Regions from separate parts of the Homo sapiens genome. Here region 2 is linked to region 1. A link means that fine-mapping ties the variant in region 1 to the expression of a gene that starts in the linked region. Tissue or cell type: whole blood. Region 1 holds a variant in brackets; the other region holds the start of a gene. All regions are shown on one strand. Distances are between the middles of the regions.

Region 1 (8,115 bases):
GCCAAGCTGGTTTCGAACTCCTGACCTCACGTGATCTGCCCACCTCTGCCTCCCAAAGTGCTGGGATTACAGGCGTGAGCCACTGCACCTGACCTGGTTTTTTAATTACCAATACTTAGGTATCCAAATGAAATCTCTTTGAAATTGTCATCTTGGGAAGTTATACGCTACATTTCTGAACATCTTTTAGAAATGCCTTCAGAATCCACAGCAAGTGTATTTCACTGTCACATCTTTGTTCTCTTACGTGGTCTTGATTTTAGAATTTCCAGTGCCATTAGTACTAATAGTTAACACTATTTCATGAGTCTCATAAACTGATGCCTACAGAGTAGTCCCAAGAATATTTACAGAAAAACATAATACAAGCTTAACAGATTAACATGACCACTTCATAGGCAAAAATAATAAAAAGATGTTGTGATAGTTAATTATATGTGTTGACTTAACAGGGCTAAGGGATGCCCAGATAGCCTGTAAACATTATTTTAAGTATGTCTTTGAGGGTGTTTCTGAAAGAGATCAGCGTTGAATCCATCAGTAGACTTAGTACAGAATATCACCCTCATCAATGCAGGTGGGCACCATCCAATGCATTGAGGGCCTCAAGAGAACAAAGAGGTGGCGGAAGCGTGAATTTTCTCTATCTGCTTGATCTGGGCCATCCATCTTCCCCTGCCTTGGGACGTGGGTGGTCCTGGTTTTTGGACCTTTGGACTCCAGAACTTACACCAGTAGCCCCCCAGGTTCCCAAGCCTTAAGTCTTGGACTGAATTACACCACCAGTTTTCCTGGTTCTCCAGTTGGCTTCAGTGTATAGTGGGGCTTCTTGACCTCCATCATCACATGAGCCAATTCCCATAACAAGTCTCTTCTTGTATATCTGTATATATTCTATTCGTTCCGTGTCTCTGGAGAACCCTGACTAATACAAGTATGCTGTTATTAGTAGAATAAAAAACAGTAGAGATCCACAGAGAGACCGGACTAGTTACACAATTCGTGAAGCCCAGTACCAATGAAAATGCAGCATCTCTTGTTCAAAAAGCAGGGGGAAGTGCTATTAAGTACTAAACTACAAAGCTCCTTCCTTGCTTCCACATATTTCATCTGCTCAAGCCCATGCTCCAGTGTCCCATCAGACTTCAGTTATAAACTGTAAGTTTAAAGATAATCAGTAAGAATCCCAGGATGGTAAGACAGGAGAAAGAAACCCAGTGTGGGTCCCTTCTGTGTGGGAGGTTCTGTCTGACAGCCAGCCATACAGAGATGACTTCTATTCAAAAAACACCAGCTTCCACTGATGTGTGGGAAAGTCACAGACTCTGACTTTACTCCTTCTTTTTGCAATAACACGTCTTATATTTTCAGTATTTGTTTCCGTTTAGGTAAAAGAGCAAATTCAGGAGGCGAGGAAGAGTGTATTCATTAGGGCAGCACAAGCAGTACCTCTGCAGTGGGGTCAGAGGGAGAGAAGTGCCTGGGGATAACCCCTTCCTGGCTGGCTCACTGAGGCAGGCCAGGAAGTACAGTAGCTGGTAGCTTATTTTACCTCAAGTTCAAACAAACCTTTCCCCTGCAGATGGGTTTCAGCAAACACCATAAAGTCCACTTTATACAAAACTTCATGGAAACACAGTGGGGCAAAACTAGCCTCATCCCCACCCACTCTCTGCCCCACCTCACTTCCTTTGCTCCCTGTGGCTAGCATGTCTAATTCAAGGGACAGTCACAAAAATACTGGCTATTAAACATCTTGAGGTTCATTGATATTCTCAGTGTGTTGTAGGTTTCTGCTAAAACACATTGGTGATTTAAAGGAGTCTACCAGCTCTGAAACCAAGTTTCTTAAATTCCATGAAGCAGTTCCACAGGAGTGCTGTCTTACTGTGTCCGGAATTGGTGGGTTCTTGGTCTCACTGACTTCAAGAATGAAGCCGCGGACCCTCGCGGTGAGTGTTACAGTTCGTAAAGTCCGCGTGTCCGGAGTTTGTTCCTTCTGATGTTCGGATGTATTCGGAGTTTCTTCCTTCTTGTGGGTTCGTGGTCTCGCTGGCGCAGGAGTGAAGCTGCACACCTTTGCAATGAGTGTTACACCTCATAAAGACAGTGCAGACCCAAAGACTGAGCAGCAGCAAGATTTATTGCAAAGAGCAAAAGAACAAAGCTTCCACCGTGTGGAAGGGGACCCGAAGCGGGTTGCCACTGCTGGCTGGGGCAGCCTGCTTTTATTCCCTTATCTGGTCCCACCCACATCCTGCTGATTAGTCCATTTTACAGAGAGCTGATTCATCTGTTTTGCAGAGAGCTGATTGGTCCATTTTGACAGGGTGCTGATTGTTGCATTTACAATCCCTGAGCTAGACACAAAAGTTCTTCAAGTCCCCACTTGATTAGCTAGACACAGAGCACTGATAGGTGCATTTACAAACCTTGAGCTAGACACAGGGTGCTGATTGGTGCATTTACAAACCTTGAGCTAGACACAGAGTGCTGATTGGTGTATTTACAATCCCTTAGCTAGACATAAAGGTTCTCCAAGTCCCCACTGGATTAGCTAGACACAGAGCACTGATTGGTGCATTAACAAACCTTGAGCTAGACACAGGGTGCTGATTGGTGTGTTTACAAACCTTGACCTAGACACAGTGCTGATTGGTGTATTTACAATCCCTTAGCTAGACATAAAGGTTCTCCAAGTCCCCACTAGACTCAGGAGCCCAGCTGGCTTCACCTAGTGGATTCCACACCGGACAGCAGGTGGAGCTGCCCGCCAGTCCCGCACCATGCGCCCACAATCCTCAGCCCTTGAGCTGTGGATGGGACCGGGCGCTGCAGAGCAGGGGGTAGCGCTCGTGGGGCCGCGCAGGAGCCCACGGCGGTGGGGGGCGGGAGGGAGGCTCAGGCATGGCGGGCTGCAGGTCCGGAGCCCTGCCCCGCCGGGAGGCAGCTGAGGCCCGGCAAGAATTCCAGCGCAGCGCCGGGGGGCCGGCACTGCTGGGGGACCCGGCGTACCCTCTGCAGCTGCTGGCCTGGGTGCTAAGCCCCTCACTCACCCGGCCGGCAGCACTGGCCGGCTGCTCCGAGTGTGGGGCCGCCGAGCCCACGCCCACCCAGAACTCGCGCTGGCCTGCAAGCACCAGGCGCAGCCCGGTTCCCACCCGCGCCTCTCCCTCCACACCTCCCGCAAGCTGAGGGAGCCGGCTCCGGCCTTGGCCAGCCCAGAGAGGGGCTCCCATGGTGGGGAAGCCCCGCAAGAAGTGGCCTGAAGGGCCCCTCAAGCGCAGCGAGAGTGGGCGCCTAGGCCAAGGAGGTGCCCAGAGCGAGCGAGGGCTGCCAGGAGGCTATCACCTCTCATTACCTTTTCCGTGGTAATTTTCTCCCTGGCAGGAAACCACTTAGTTCTTTTGTATCTCAGTAGGTCTGGGACTATTATAATCACATTGCGGGACTTGTCCTTAATTCAGCTAAAGGCAGGGTCCTTGTCATTTGGCCACAGAAGTAGGCTTGCAGACAATTTGAAGGGTGAGAATAATGGGATTTACTGGGCAAAAAGGAGAAAAAAAACAGAGTGAGAGTCCTCCTAGTATAAGCTTCCCACCTCACAGATTGAATCCCAAATTCCACCCAGGAAGAGGAGGGGCCAGGCTCCTCCCCACTGCAAATGGCACAGACTTCTGTGGTTCCACCCCAGTGCACACTCCTCCCAGTGGGCAGGCTGGTTGGAGATTCTTTGGGGACACTTTCCCACCTGGCTGTCTCAATTATGTGCTGAATAAAGCTTAACTATACATCGTAATATGAGAAAACAATGTGTAGAGACTATCTGTAAATTTTACCTCTTCCTCCCACCCCCCCAAAAAAATTGTGGTCAATTTTAAATGTAACTTTTGACATTGACACACTTTCCTACCTACCTCCAGTGTATATGCTAATAATGAGAGGTTTTGAGTGAAGTTACTGTATTTCTAATCATTAATTTCTAGTTACAGCACATCACAGATTTTCTTAAATCACTTTGAGATACTTTTGGAAGTTCTCGAAAGAGCTTCAAAATAAAACAAACTTTATTTTAATTGATATTAACTACTCAACAGTATTAGGAGAAAGTGGGGATACTATGAAATCAAGTTTTAAGATATGAAGTATTCTTTTTACTTCCATAAAATCCTTCCATCACTACTCCAGTCATGTTGATACCATCTGAATTCAGGTTGTACCAACTATATTTTGCTTTAGTCATTGCTGTTTCCCTCCCAGTAAATATCATTCTCTATTGATTAAACCTAA[G/A]TATATCAAATGAAATTGATATAATACAATGAAATTTCAGAATGACCCTGAGGAAGAAACCCTTAGACAAATGAGTTGAACTTTCCAAGAAGTTCCTCAGACAGGGGAGAAAAAAGACAGCAAACTGGTAAAGGAAGAAATTAGAACCGTAAGGACTAAATTTTCCCCAAAGTGAGCTTGAGGTAAAAGGTTTTCCAGTCACAATGAAAACAGAATTTGCCAACAAGGTCATGATCACGTCAGACAACTTACAATGGGGAAAAAGAAATTTACAGAAAGCCTTGTTTATTTTTAACCACAAAATTTGGACTATTTCCAAACTACCTCTGGGAAGTGCCTGTCTGCCCTTGACCGTGATGTTGTTCCTTTTTCTCTCTTCTCTCCCTCAAACCTTCCCAGCACTCAGATGCCAACTTAAGGGTAGCAGGGAAGCACTCAATTGCATTTGAAAGTTCTAATCATGTTTTGTTCCTTTAACTTACATAATTGATTCTGGTGATTTGGGCATTTATCATTGGTAAGGGATTGCTTATTAAATGAATGGGAATACTTGTGCTCCTAATTTAATGCAAAAGCTCTATGCCTTTCTGACCTATGCGGTCTGCATTATTTTTGAAAAGTATAACTTAGTTATTTGTATTGTAATCCATTTAACAAACAACCTCACTGTCGTTGGTACAGTGTAATAAACTTTCTCTGGCAGCCAAAAGACTTTATGCACAATACAATGAGTGATTTTTGAGGACATCCTTGACAGTGGGAAATGGACCATATTGTTGTTCATTTCAGGGAGAATCCTGTGGAAGAAAAATAAAAATCTGAGGACCCCAAACTCACTATGCCAAAAGGAAAAGTCAACCTTGGGAACTGAACCACACAGAACTGCCTCCCATTTTATCCCTAAATAGCAACAAAGATAGAAGGCCACCTACTTCCCCAGGAGGCCTCCCACACAATTTCCTCATGAAGGAATTTCCTGTGGGCCTCAAGATCTTTACCCTAAAACAGTTCTGTTGAATTTCACCCTGACAATGTGAAACTAACAGGTTATCTTCACAGGTAAGGGTCAAAGAACAGGACTGCAAGTGATCCCTCCCCTTGCCTGAGACAAATAGTATTTGATTTCTTCCTCTGTGTTTACTTTACCTCATGTAAAAATGCAGAGTCACTGAGCAATGCACAATTGACTATTTCTCTAACCCCTCCTTTCACATGTAACATGTGGATTCAGTGACTGATGATCAAAGCCTCAAAAGAATGCAACAGCTTGCCCCTTTTATCTATTCCCCCTGACACCCTCCCCCCCGGCTGCCTTTTTCCTTTCTCTTTTCCCTACTGCCCATTCTTTCCCCTTTAAATATTGAAGTCCCAAACCTCCTTGGAAAAAGCATGGATCACAGATGATCCTGTGATTTTGTGTTCCTTTTCTTGTCCTCAACCTTGGCAAAGTAAACCTCTAAAATGATTGAGACTCACCTCAGCCATTTTCTCTGATTTATATTCCTGCTATTTCAAGCCGGTGAATGGAACAAGGTAGACCTCATCTATTTCCCAAGAATGATATTAATTTGCAGCATGATATCTGAAAAATCATTTCTCTACTCTCCATCATTAGAAGATATAGCTCCTTTGGAAGGCCAATGAAATATGTAGGATGCCTGGTTCCTTTGTAGATATTCTGACACAAGTCTTTGGACTTTTCTAGACTGGTGGCATTCATGTAGGTGGGTGTTCAAAGATGCACAAAGGACAATGTTAATATTCTTTTGAGGCAGCTCTTAAGAACTGAAACACTCCCTATAGACCAGTCAGCTTAGATGTCTTCTAGAGCAATTAATAAACTCCATAACCCAAATAAAGTCCAGGGTTCATGAAGCCCAGTGTCTAGATGCTGCTTTCAAAGGAACACAATCATCTGTAGTGGCTTCTAAATAATATGGGCTTAGGGACTTATATTATTGGAGGGCTACTAAAGAGCCTATAATAGCTGCATTTTTTTGTTGTTGCATTTTACATAAGACTGAGAAAACACTGATTATTATTCTCAAAGAATTGACTTTTTTGATGCCACCACTGAAGTTTAGAAGTCAAAACTAGTCATGTGTAGTTCTAATCCTTACTTGCCTCCTTTGACCAGTGTCAATGGGAATTCTATAAACAATCCACAGCAATATATGTTTTGAAATTTCCTTTCCCCTTCCTCTTGCACTCAATTTCTCTCCCCATGACTCCCTGAGATCTATCTTGTCACCAACCATAAATGTTTTCCCTGAAGTCTACTGATTTACTATCCCCTTTCTGTCTCTCCTAATTTTTTTTCCATACATAGTAAATCTGGCCTTTTATTTGTGACTTTTCCCCAACTGTATCTTCTTCTCAGATTTTTGCCTTCCCAATTAACCTGGTCTACATCAATGTTTCCCAACCTTCTTTTCATTATTGCCTTTCCTAAGAAGACTTTGTAACTCCCTCCCACGGATATACCATATATTTGCTTATGTGCTATATGTATATCTGTGTTTTAGACATAAAAATAGTATAATTTTTTCACCCCTCAAGAACCAGTCCTCCTTCTTGGGAGCAGTATCACCCCAGCTGAGAATGCATGGTCTCCAACACAGGCAGGATAAGAAGAGAGGAGCAGGAACTGACAGGTGAGCAACGCCAGCAAACTGCAAGTATTTTTCATGAGAATTCTAGTTCTATTCCGTTTCTATATATATATTTGGGCATTTGGGTGTACCACTGTAGCCAGTGTTAGTCTTAAGCAAAATGGCATAATATAGCTCTCCTTCTTACCTTCTGTCTTCTCCTCTTGTTACCTCTGGATAATTAGTACCCCTCAACACTTTATTTAAAACTCATTCTTACTCCTGCACCCAGTAAACTCCTAAACATTCAGTATCTCACCCCCATTTGTGAAATAAAAACAGCTAATCTGGCATAATTCTTATATGTGAAGAACTAATCCTACAAAACTGATGTATTTCTCCTCTGGGAATTATTTGCATTTTAAAGAACATCTCCTTAAAAAAGAAAAAAGAAAAATACTCCCCTATGAGAATTAAGTCTTACTAGTAGTTCAGGCATCATATAAAGCAGGCAGGAAGATGACCCAGAATAAAGGCATTCCCTAATGCCCCAAAAATCATAAGAAGAGGTTATTCAAGCACCCCTACTCTGCCTCTTCATAATCCCTAGCCCACCACTCGTACCCAATATCTCTGCCCACTAACATTAACTATTCTTGGAGACTGGAAACTCAGAGGACAAAGAGCATCTTTAATATCTTTGTATTCACTATATAGCATCTAGTAAATACCTTGTATATTGTTCTTAACTATGTTCTTTAATTTAATGTTCTTATTTCATTTTGGGAGGCTCAGAAAACAATATCCTAAAATACACTGTTTTGGACTTCAAACTAACAGCACCTGGGAGTAGCAAATGCTGGGAGGGCTTTCTCTTATCTTCCCTTATCTGACTATGAGAAGTTCCTTTACAAGGAACACAATCATCAGCCAGGGGAGGTTAGCTCACAGGAAAAGAGACTAAAGGTCTAACACGTTGCTCAGAGAGACTTTTACCACAGGCTACAATCTATCCTTCAGAGGGCTGCTACCTGAGAGACTTCATCTACATAATAAGACAAACCTTTGGTTTTAGTGCATTTCTTCCCCTCACTCTCTCATAGCTTGTCACCCTCACCCTCCAGGAGCCCCAGCCCCTATTCCTCTCTGTATGATATAAAAACTTCAGTCATCTTATTCTTCTTTGAGTCATATTTTATGAGGCTCCCATGCATATGCACATAGTAAACCTGTA
Region 2 (8,115 bases), 140 kb after region 1:
TATTTAACCTCATTATCCAGAGAAGGAAATTGAGATAGAGAGATTAGGTCATCAAGATCACGGTGCCAGCCAATTATGGTGCCAAGATAACCCCACAGAGACAGGGATGTATGCAGGCCAATCCAAACCAAATCTATCATGAAGAAGGCCACAAATCCTAGCTTTATGTTATTAAAGCAGCAAAATGACAAACAAAGTAAAGTCAAAGTCTTACTGTGGTTAGCAGTTCTTCTCATAAAGCCCAAAACACCAGATTTTCTTCTAATGATTTCAGATGTCAAGTGGTAAAAATTGATTTTACAATGTTCTTGAGTAAATAAGTACTGGGGAAAAAAATGAGGAGGAAACATGTTTGTTTGGGTAAATTGCTAAGCAACACCACACATGCCAGAAACTCCTTTTGGATTTCCTCTCGAGGTGGAGACCGCGAAACCAACGGGTACTTCACTTTGTGTCTGTTTCATCAGTTCACACTGGAAAATAAAAGCCAAACAGGCAATTCTAATAATACAAGAGTCAGAGGTGTGGAGGCCACTAATATTAAATTAGACTGAACTGTTTAAGGTTGCCTTTTAAAATGGCTCCTTCCAGCGTCCACGGTGGCACTAAGACTGAGGTGAGATTTGTGCAGCGTGTCCAGGAAGATCTAGCACACTGATGAAAAAAAAAACAAACAGCAGCCAGGCCATGTTATCTATCCCACTCGGTATTTCCAGATGCTACAGATGATGGAAATTTGTAATGTGACAACAGGATTGTGGAAATGAGATGAAAAAAACTTTGTGCACGTCACTTATTTAATAATGGAAAATTTCTTATTAGAAGTAAGGTCTTCAGATGGGTATTAAAGGAAGGAATTCCGTGGGTAGGGAGAGAAATTTACAGCCTCAGGGCCTGCTTGAGCAAAAGCTGGGCACTCTAAAGGGGAGAAACAAATTAACATAAAAGCACAAAAGGGAACCTTAGTAAGCCAGAAGGAATGAATAAGTATTTGAACAGGAAATATATTAGATGGCTGGTGTTGGGTTTATGAAAATTAAGATTGAAATTAATATTGAAACTCCAAAATGTAAGATTTAGGGTGCAATGGACCAAATGCTATTTAAGTGGTATTACACAAAAATTGCTGCGAATTTTTAATGATTACATTTCTTGCAATAATTTGTAAAGAAAATTTTGGGTAAGCACACATATAACTCTGAATTATGTATGTGCAGACACATTTCCAATCAATTTGAATTCTTTTAAGGGTGAGGATATAGTTTCAGGAAGATTTCAGATTTTGTTTTAAATAGGAACTGACACTCTAGAAAGAAAAAAAAAAGGCCTATTTATGTTATCATTAACTATAGAGAGTCTGTACTCCTTAACACACATCTGAGGCTTCCTATGATCTGGCCCTACCTACCTTCCCTACCCATGCCAGCCTGGGCAATCTCTCTTCTAAATCCCCTCAAACCCTGTAAAATATAAGCTCACCTCTATGAGAGCTAGGCTTTTCCCCTATTTAATGAATTGCCGTCTCTCCTAGTATTGTGCCTGGCATATAGTAGGTGTTTAGTAAGTATTTGTTATAGAAGCCTCTAGGATTGGCATGGAGCCCTCCAGAAACTCACAGCCTAGCTGGAACAAAGACATCCACAAAAGCAATTATAATAGATGAAAATAGTTATCATAATTAAGATATAAGAGCTAAGACCACTTCTAACACTAACAAAGACATCCACAAAAGCAATTATCATAGATGAAAACAGTTATCATAATTAAGATATAAGAGCAAAGACTACTTCTAACACTATTAGCACGTACATGTCAGACGGTGTTCCACATGCTATGGTCTGGGTGTTTGTGTTCCCCCCCCATAATTCATACATTGAAATCCTAACCTTCAAAGTGATGGTATAAGGAGCTGGGGCCTCTGAGAGGTGATTACATCATGGGGCTGGAGCCCTCACAAATGGGATTAGTGCCCTTAGAGAAGCAGCTCAAGGGAGCTCTTTTGCCCCTTCTACCATAAGACACAGCTAGGAGGTGCAGTCTATGAACCAGAAAGTAGACCCTCACCAGACCACAAATCTGCTGGCAGCATGATCTTGGACCGTCCAGCTTCCAGAACTGTAAGAAATAAAGGTTCATCGTTTATAAGCCACCCACTACATGATATTTTTTATAGCAGCCCGAATGGACTAAAACACATGTATTAATTCACCTAATCCTCACAACAACCCTATGAGGTAGGCATTATCATTATCCTCATCTTTGGTGGTACAAGGAGATAAAGTGACTTTCCCAAGGTCACACAGCTAGGAAGTAGTGAGTAAATCAGAATCCAGGCAGTCTGGCTCCAGGGTCCTTACAACGAATTAGTGACTGCAGGCACAAGCATAGAGTAACCTGACTCAAAGACCACTGAATTTTCTTCTAAGTCTGGGATTCCAGATGATTGTCTCACTAGTGCTAACAGTGAAGTATAGAAATGTGGGGGAAATATTTATGAAACCTCTTCCATTTGGAACACATTGGTGCTTCTCAAACTTTGGATGCCTGAGAATCCCCTGTGAAGATTCAGAATTTCAGGACTGGAATCCGGAAGATTTTGAGTCAATAAGGTTGGAATGTGGACCCAGTATCTATATTTTTAGCAAGAGCTGCAAGTGATGCTGGAGATCTTCTGATCACAATTTGAAAACATTGTACTAGGCCTATTCTCCAGAGGACCCTTTGGCTCAGATTCTGCATTCTCTTTCCAGGCCTGGCTCTCCTCTGTTGGAATGTGTCTGTAAGAATCCTTCGACTCTGCAGTGCTGCTGGTGCTATTCAGGACATCTTCAGCTTCAGAAGTTCCTTGGATGACAGGCACCATAACCCTTAACCCACTTGGTAATCTCTCATTTTTGGTCTGTCTCCTCTTGAGGGCCAAGGCTGTATCATACTCCTCTCTACATGCCCAGACCTTAATTCAGGGCACAGGAAATGTCTTCAGAATGAACTGATGAATAGCATGAGCTAGGGCTGTGCTCCAGACCCACCAGTCTTGCCTTTGAGAAGCTCACAGTTAAGAGAAGAACATGAATATCTAAATTAATAAACTGCAGGATCAGGTAATAGGTAGCCATAATTACCTAAATATTAGCAGCATGTTATATGTGCCTAGAGAACAAATGAATAATTCATTAAGGTGGATGGATGGCATGGGATGCCATGCTAGAGGAGTACATTAAGAGCTGTTAAAGCTAAATTGTGTCCCCCCAAAAATTTCTGTGTTGAAGTCCTAACCCCCATTACCTCAGAACATGACCATACTTGGAGACAGGGTCTTTACAGAAGTAATGAAGTGAAAACAAGGTCATGAGGGTAGGCCCTAATCCAATATGATGTATAAGAATAGACAATTAGGACACAGACGCATACAGAGGGAAGAGGGAAGACGGCGTGAGGACACAAAAGCGGGGCCATCTGCAAGCCAAGGAGAGAGGCCTCAGAAGAAACCAACTCTGCCAACACCTCGTGAGAAAATACAATTTTTCTTTTCTTTTTCCTTCCTTCCTTCTTTTTTTCTTTCTTCTCTCTCTCTCTTTCTTTCTTTATGAGACAGAGTCTCACTCTGTCACTTGGAGTGCAGTGGCCCGATCTTGGCTCACTACATCCTCTGCCTCCCGGGCTCAAGCGATCCTCCCACCTCAGCGTCCCTAATAGCTGGGACCAAAGGCACACACCGCAAAGCCTGGCTAATTTTTGTATTTTTTGTAGAGACAAGGTGAGCAAATAAATTTCTGTTAAGCCACCCAGTCTCTGGTACTTTGTTATGGCAGCCCTAACAAACAAATACAGGAGCAGATTATGAGAATTTACTAAACCAAACCACAGAAATTAAATTTTATCCTTTCAGCTGCCAGAAGCCCACAGAGGTGTCTAAGCATCAACGTGACAAATAAGCAGCTTTGGTTCTGCAATATAACCTGGAAATAGTGAGGACACCGACGTGGAGAATAGAGATGGGAGTTGACAGGGATCAATTGTTCTAATGCGGAATAATGCAAGACATAAGATCAAGCCAGCAGGAGTGAGAAACAGAGATCATATCAGGGTGATATCTGTGGGGCAAAAGTAACAAGAAGATAAGGTGTAGGCGGTGGAGGGTAAACCGCGAGGCTTCCATGAAGAAGAGTGGCCTGGGAAGTGAGGAGGACAGCGAAGCCCCAAACCTCACCTTGGGATACGGGAAGTGAAGCAGGTTCCAGAGAAGGGGACAAGATAATGACTTAGGGTAGGATAAATTTCAGACAATTGCAGAGCATCACATTAGATGTGTTCAGAAGAGTGGAAATAAAGTTCTGTGCCTAGGCCCTCATGCAGGATTCTGTTGCTAGAAGTCAGTGCTGGCCGCAGGGAGACCGGAGATCACAGTGGAGGCACCAGCGATCCGAGAGTCCTATGACGAATCCCTGGGATCCCCACAATGTGTGGAGACAGAAGCCAACCAAAGAGCGAGAAAGCATCTCCAAACCAGCAGAATCAGGGGCAGGAGGCCCGCCAAATGCACAGCAAGTCAGCCTTGGTAGTTTGCAAATGGAAAGATTTCTTTGACCCGCTGGAGACTTCAGCTCAGGCTGGATGTCGCTAATTCACACCATCTCACCAAAAGGTTCTTTCCCTGCCCTTTGGTGAATCGAGGCAGAAGTGGCTGGTGGATAACTGGGACCCAAGAGTTATCTCAGCGTCGGGCAGGCATCGACAGCTCCAGGAGCCCTTTCCCTGCAGGCGGGCTGGCGGGTGAGCGATTCCCTCCCTTCCCAGGCCTTCCCGGGAATGGAACGTGGGCGCCCGCGCCCGGGCTCCGGTTCCACTTGGAACGCGGACTCGGGAGCCGCCGGGCGAGCGCGCAGACCGCGGGGGCGGCTCCCTCGCACCTCCCCGCTCAGCGCGCCGCGGCGGATGGGCGAGGCGGGGCGAGGCCAGAGGGAGGCGGGCCAAAGGGGCGGGCGAGAGGACGCGGGACCGCGGGGAGGTCGGGGGCGGGGAGCAGGCGGCGGCGGGCGCCGGGAAGAAAGGAACATGGCTCCTGAGGCGCACAGCGCCGAGCGCGGCGCCGCGCACCCGCGCGCCGGACGCCAGTGACCGCGATGGTGAACTCCAGTCGCGTGCAGCCTCAGCAGCCCGGGGACGCCAAGCGGCCGCCCGCGCCCCGCGCGCCGGACCCGGGCCGGCTGATGGCTGGCTGCGCGGCCGTGGGCGCCAGCCTCGCCGCCCCGGGCGGCCTCTGCGAGCAGCGGGGCCTGGAGATCGAGATGCAGCGCATCCGGCAGGCGGCCGCGCGGGACCCCCCGGCCGGAGCCGCGGCCTCCCCTTCTCCTCCGCTCTCGTCGTGCTCCCGGCAGGCGTGGAGCCGCGATAACCCCGGCTTCGAGGCCGAGGAGGAGGAGGAGGAGGTGGAAGGGGAAGAAGGCGGAATGGTGGTGGAGATGGACGTAGAGTGGCGCCCGGGCAGCCGGAGGTCGGCCGCCTCCTCGGCCGTGAGCTCCGTGGGCGCGCGGAGCCGGGGGCTTGGGGGCTACCACGGCGCGGGCCACCCGAGCGGGAGGCGGCGCCGGCGAGAGGACCAGGGCCCGCCGTGCCCCAGCCCAGTCGGCGGCGGGGACCCGCTGCATCGCCACCTCCCCCTGGAAGGGCAGCCGCCCCGAGTGGCCTGGGCGGAGAGGCTGGTTCGCGGGCTGCGAGGTAAGAGCGCGCGACCCGCAGCGGCAGATGCACGAACCAGAACGGCCGGCGCCGGCCGGGGCCATCGCCCGCTGCGGCAGCTCCCCGGGCTCCATCTCGCATCCCCTCTGCGTTCCGCCTCCCTTGGAAGCGCATTCCCCACCTCCGCTAGTGCTGCCCTATTTCCGGTACCCAGCGCGGAATTCCACTGCTCTTTTGTTGGTGCATATTTATTGGATACCTCCTTCTTCAGGATATGTCACCATAGTCTTTTTTACTGAAAATTAGTGAAAGCCTAATTAGAGTGAAAGAGTACATCTGGGTTTTGTTTTTTTTTTTCTTGTAGAGGAAAAAATGAACATTACTTGTGTAACTGATGGTAGTTGCAACTGCATATTTGCCAATGTCACAAAATCTAAAGGAAAATGTTATAGTCACCCGTGGTTTCCTTCTTGCCTGGACACTCCATTGTCCCGGGCTGAAAAGGGTAGCAGTACAGTGCATATAATGTCAAGTTGTGGGAGGAGTGTGGCAGATTGTCATTGGTGCATTTTTTTGGTGATGTGTGTGGTTGTTTTGAGGAGTGGGAGCTGTTAAGAACACCACAAATAGAATAAAATAATATCGTGAAGTTATTTGGCCGTTTCTAATTCTAGACATTTTTCTAAAAACAGTTGCAAAGGAAAGATTACATTGTTTTAAAAAAATTTGAAGTATGTTTTTAAATAACTAAATTAATGTTCTTTGAAATTCCACCAAAATGATGAAGTCACCAGATAGCAGCTGATAAATGTGTCTGAGCCCAGTGCGCCCAGCTCTACAAAAGGCAGAAGAGGAATTTTCAAATTTGCCAGTGCCCAGTAAGAGGACATGAATTTTCTAGTACCAGAGGAAATTCTCTTTTTACAAATTTTGTCAGAGGTATCCTTGGGAAAGTATTTCATTTGCTTTTACCCTCCAAATTATTTTAATCTATATTTTTAAGAGTTTCCATTCTCAGTTGAGTTTTTCTTGTTCTTCTCCTTCTGTCAGTTTTGAAAGTCTTGCACAAAAACAATCCAGGTGTTGTTACAGCAGTGTGATTAAAACCAGGTCAGGCCTACACTGAAATCCCAGTTCCACCACTCATTAGCTGTACGACCTTGAGCAAGTTACTTATCCTCTCTGATACCCAATTTTTGGATTTTTTTTTTTTTTAAAGAGATGATCATAACGCTTAGGACTTGACTCTTTGGGAGAATTAAGTGAGTTAAGACATAAAATGTGCAGCATGTATTTGTCATGTTATTAGCGCTTCAGAAATATAAATGTAAACATTTTGGTACTTCGTTTATGGAGATTCTTATACTAGTTAATTTTATTAAAAGCATGATGGGGAACAGAAGATCCTTTTCGGATAACCTGTGTGAGTAAATTAATAAAACACTAACACTTTTTAAGATTCAAAACTGGATTAATTATGTTATTTTACACCATTTAAAATGTGCATTTAAAAAATATTCACTGAAGTGAGAGAGAAGTTCCTTTTAAGTTAATAAATAATGGTAAGTTGCATGATCCTTTTAACTCAGTTTAAGCATTTGATAACACCCCTAACCTTGTTTGAATAAACTCAATAACAGAATATAGAGAAATAAAATATATATTTCATATGAGTATGTATGTAAATTTATTTCTTTTAAAGGAAAATTTCAGGAAACAAAATGAATAAGCTCATAGTCATAAAACCTCTAGCCAAAGTGTGTCAATGGTCTGATTTGTAGGAGAGCAGACTCAGGAATCGGGAATTTTTTTTTTTTTTTTAAGAGTCGGGGTTTCACTCTGTCACTGAGGCTGGAGTGCGGGGAAGCAAACGTAGCTCACTGCGGCCTCAAACTCCTGGGCTCAAGCTGCCCTCCCACCTCAGCTTCCCAAGTAGTTGGGATTACAGGTGCAAGCTGCTGCTCCTAGCTGAAAAGTTTTAATTATATAAAATGTTTAAATAAATTGTTATTCCTTTCTTTTATGAAGAAATATAATTGATATTCTTGTCACTTATTAAATAAGCAACATTTTAAAATGTTTAGCACCTACTGTGAAGATAGCACTGTGCTAGCTGCTATGAATAAACTAGAATAGCATATCACTGTTTTCCTATGGACAAAAACCCAGAAATGTAAAATAAATAGCCATGAATGGGTTGAGATTCCCCCTGCCCCCTTTGGATACTGATGACAGAAATCTTATATGCACTATGTAAGCAGTGCCCTAGGATCAGAACAGAAAGTAACTTGCAATTTTTAAAGGTGGGAGAAATGACTGAAGTTTGGAGTGGTCAGGAGTTTCCCTGGAAGTCTCTTGCCTTTGTGACTTTGTATAGCTCCCTCAAACTACCTGAGCCTGAGCTCCTCATTTATAAAATGGAAGAATTGAACCTAG

The links. PIP is the estimated chance that this variant, and not a neighbour inherited with it, causes the effect.
Region 2: it holds the start of PKD2, and the variant in region 1 is fine-mapped to the expression of PKD2 in whole blood (INTERVAL, PIP 0.98).

Annotation. Positions count from the first base shown.
Region 1 is chr4:87,860,875-87,868,989 of GRCh38, forward strand. No RefSeq gene overlaps it. Among named protein-coding and RNA genes, the nearest start is that of MEPE, 32 kb to the left of the region's middle. RefSeq lists an enhancer at 4,959-5,771. The variant G/A (reference allele first, on the strand shown) is at 4,291.
Region 2 is chr4:88,002,611-88,010,725 of GRCh38, forward strand. It overlaps PKD2 (polycystin 2, transient receptor potential cation channel), which reads left to right and starts at 5,025. Exons shown (of 15, transcript NM_000297.4): 1 at 5,025-5,718. The coding sequence starts at 5,124. RefSeq lists silencers at 4,788-5,717, 5,768-5,907.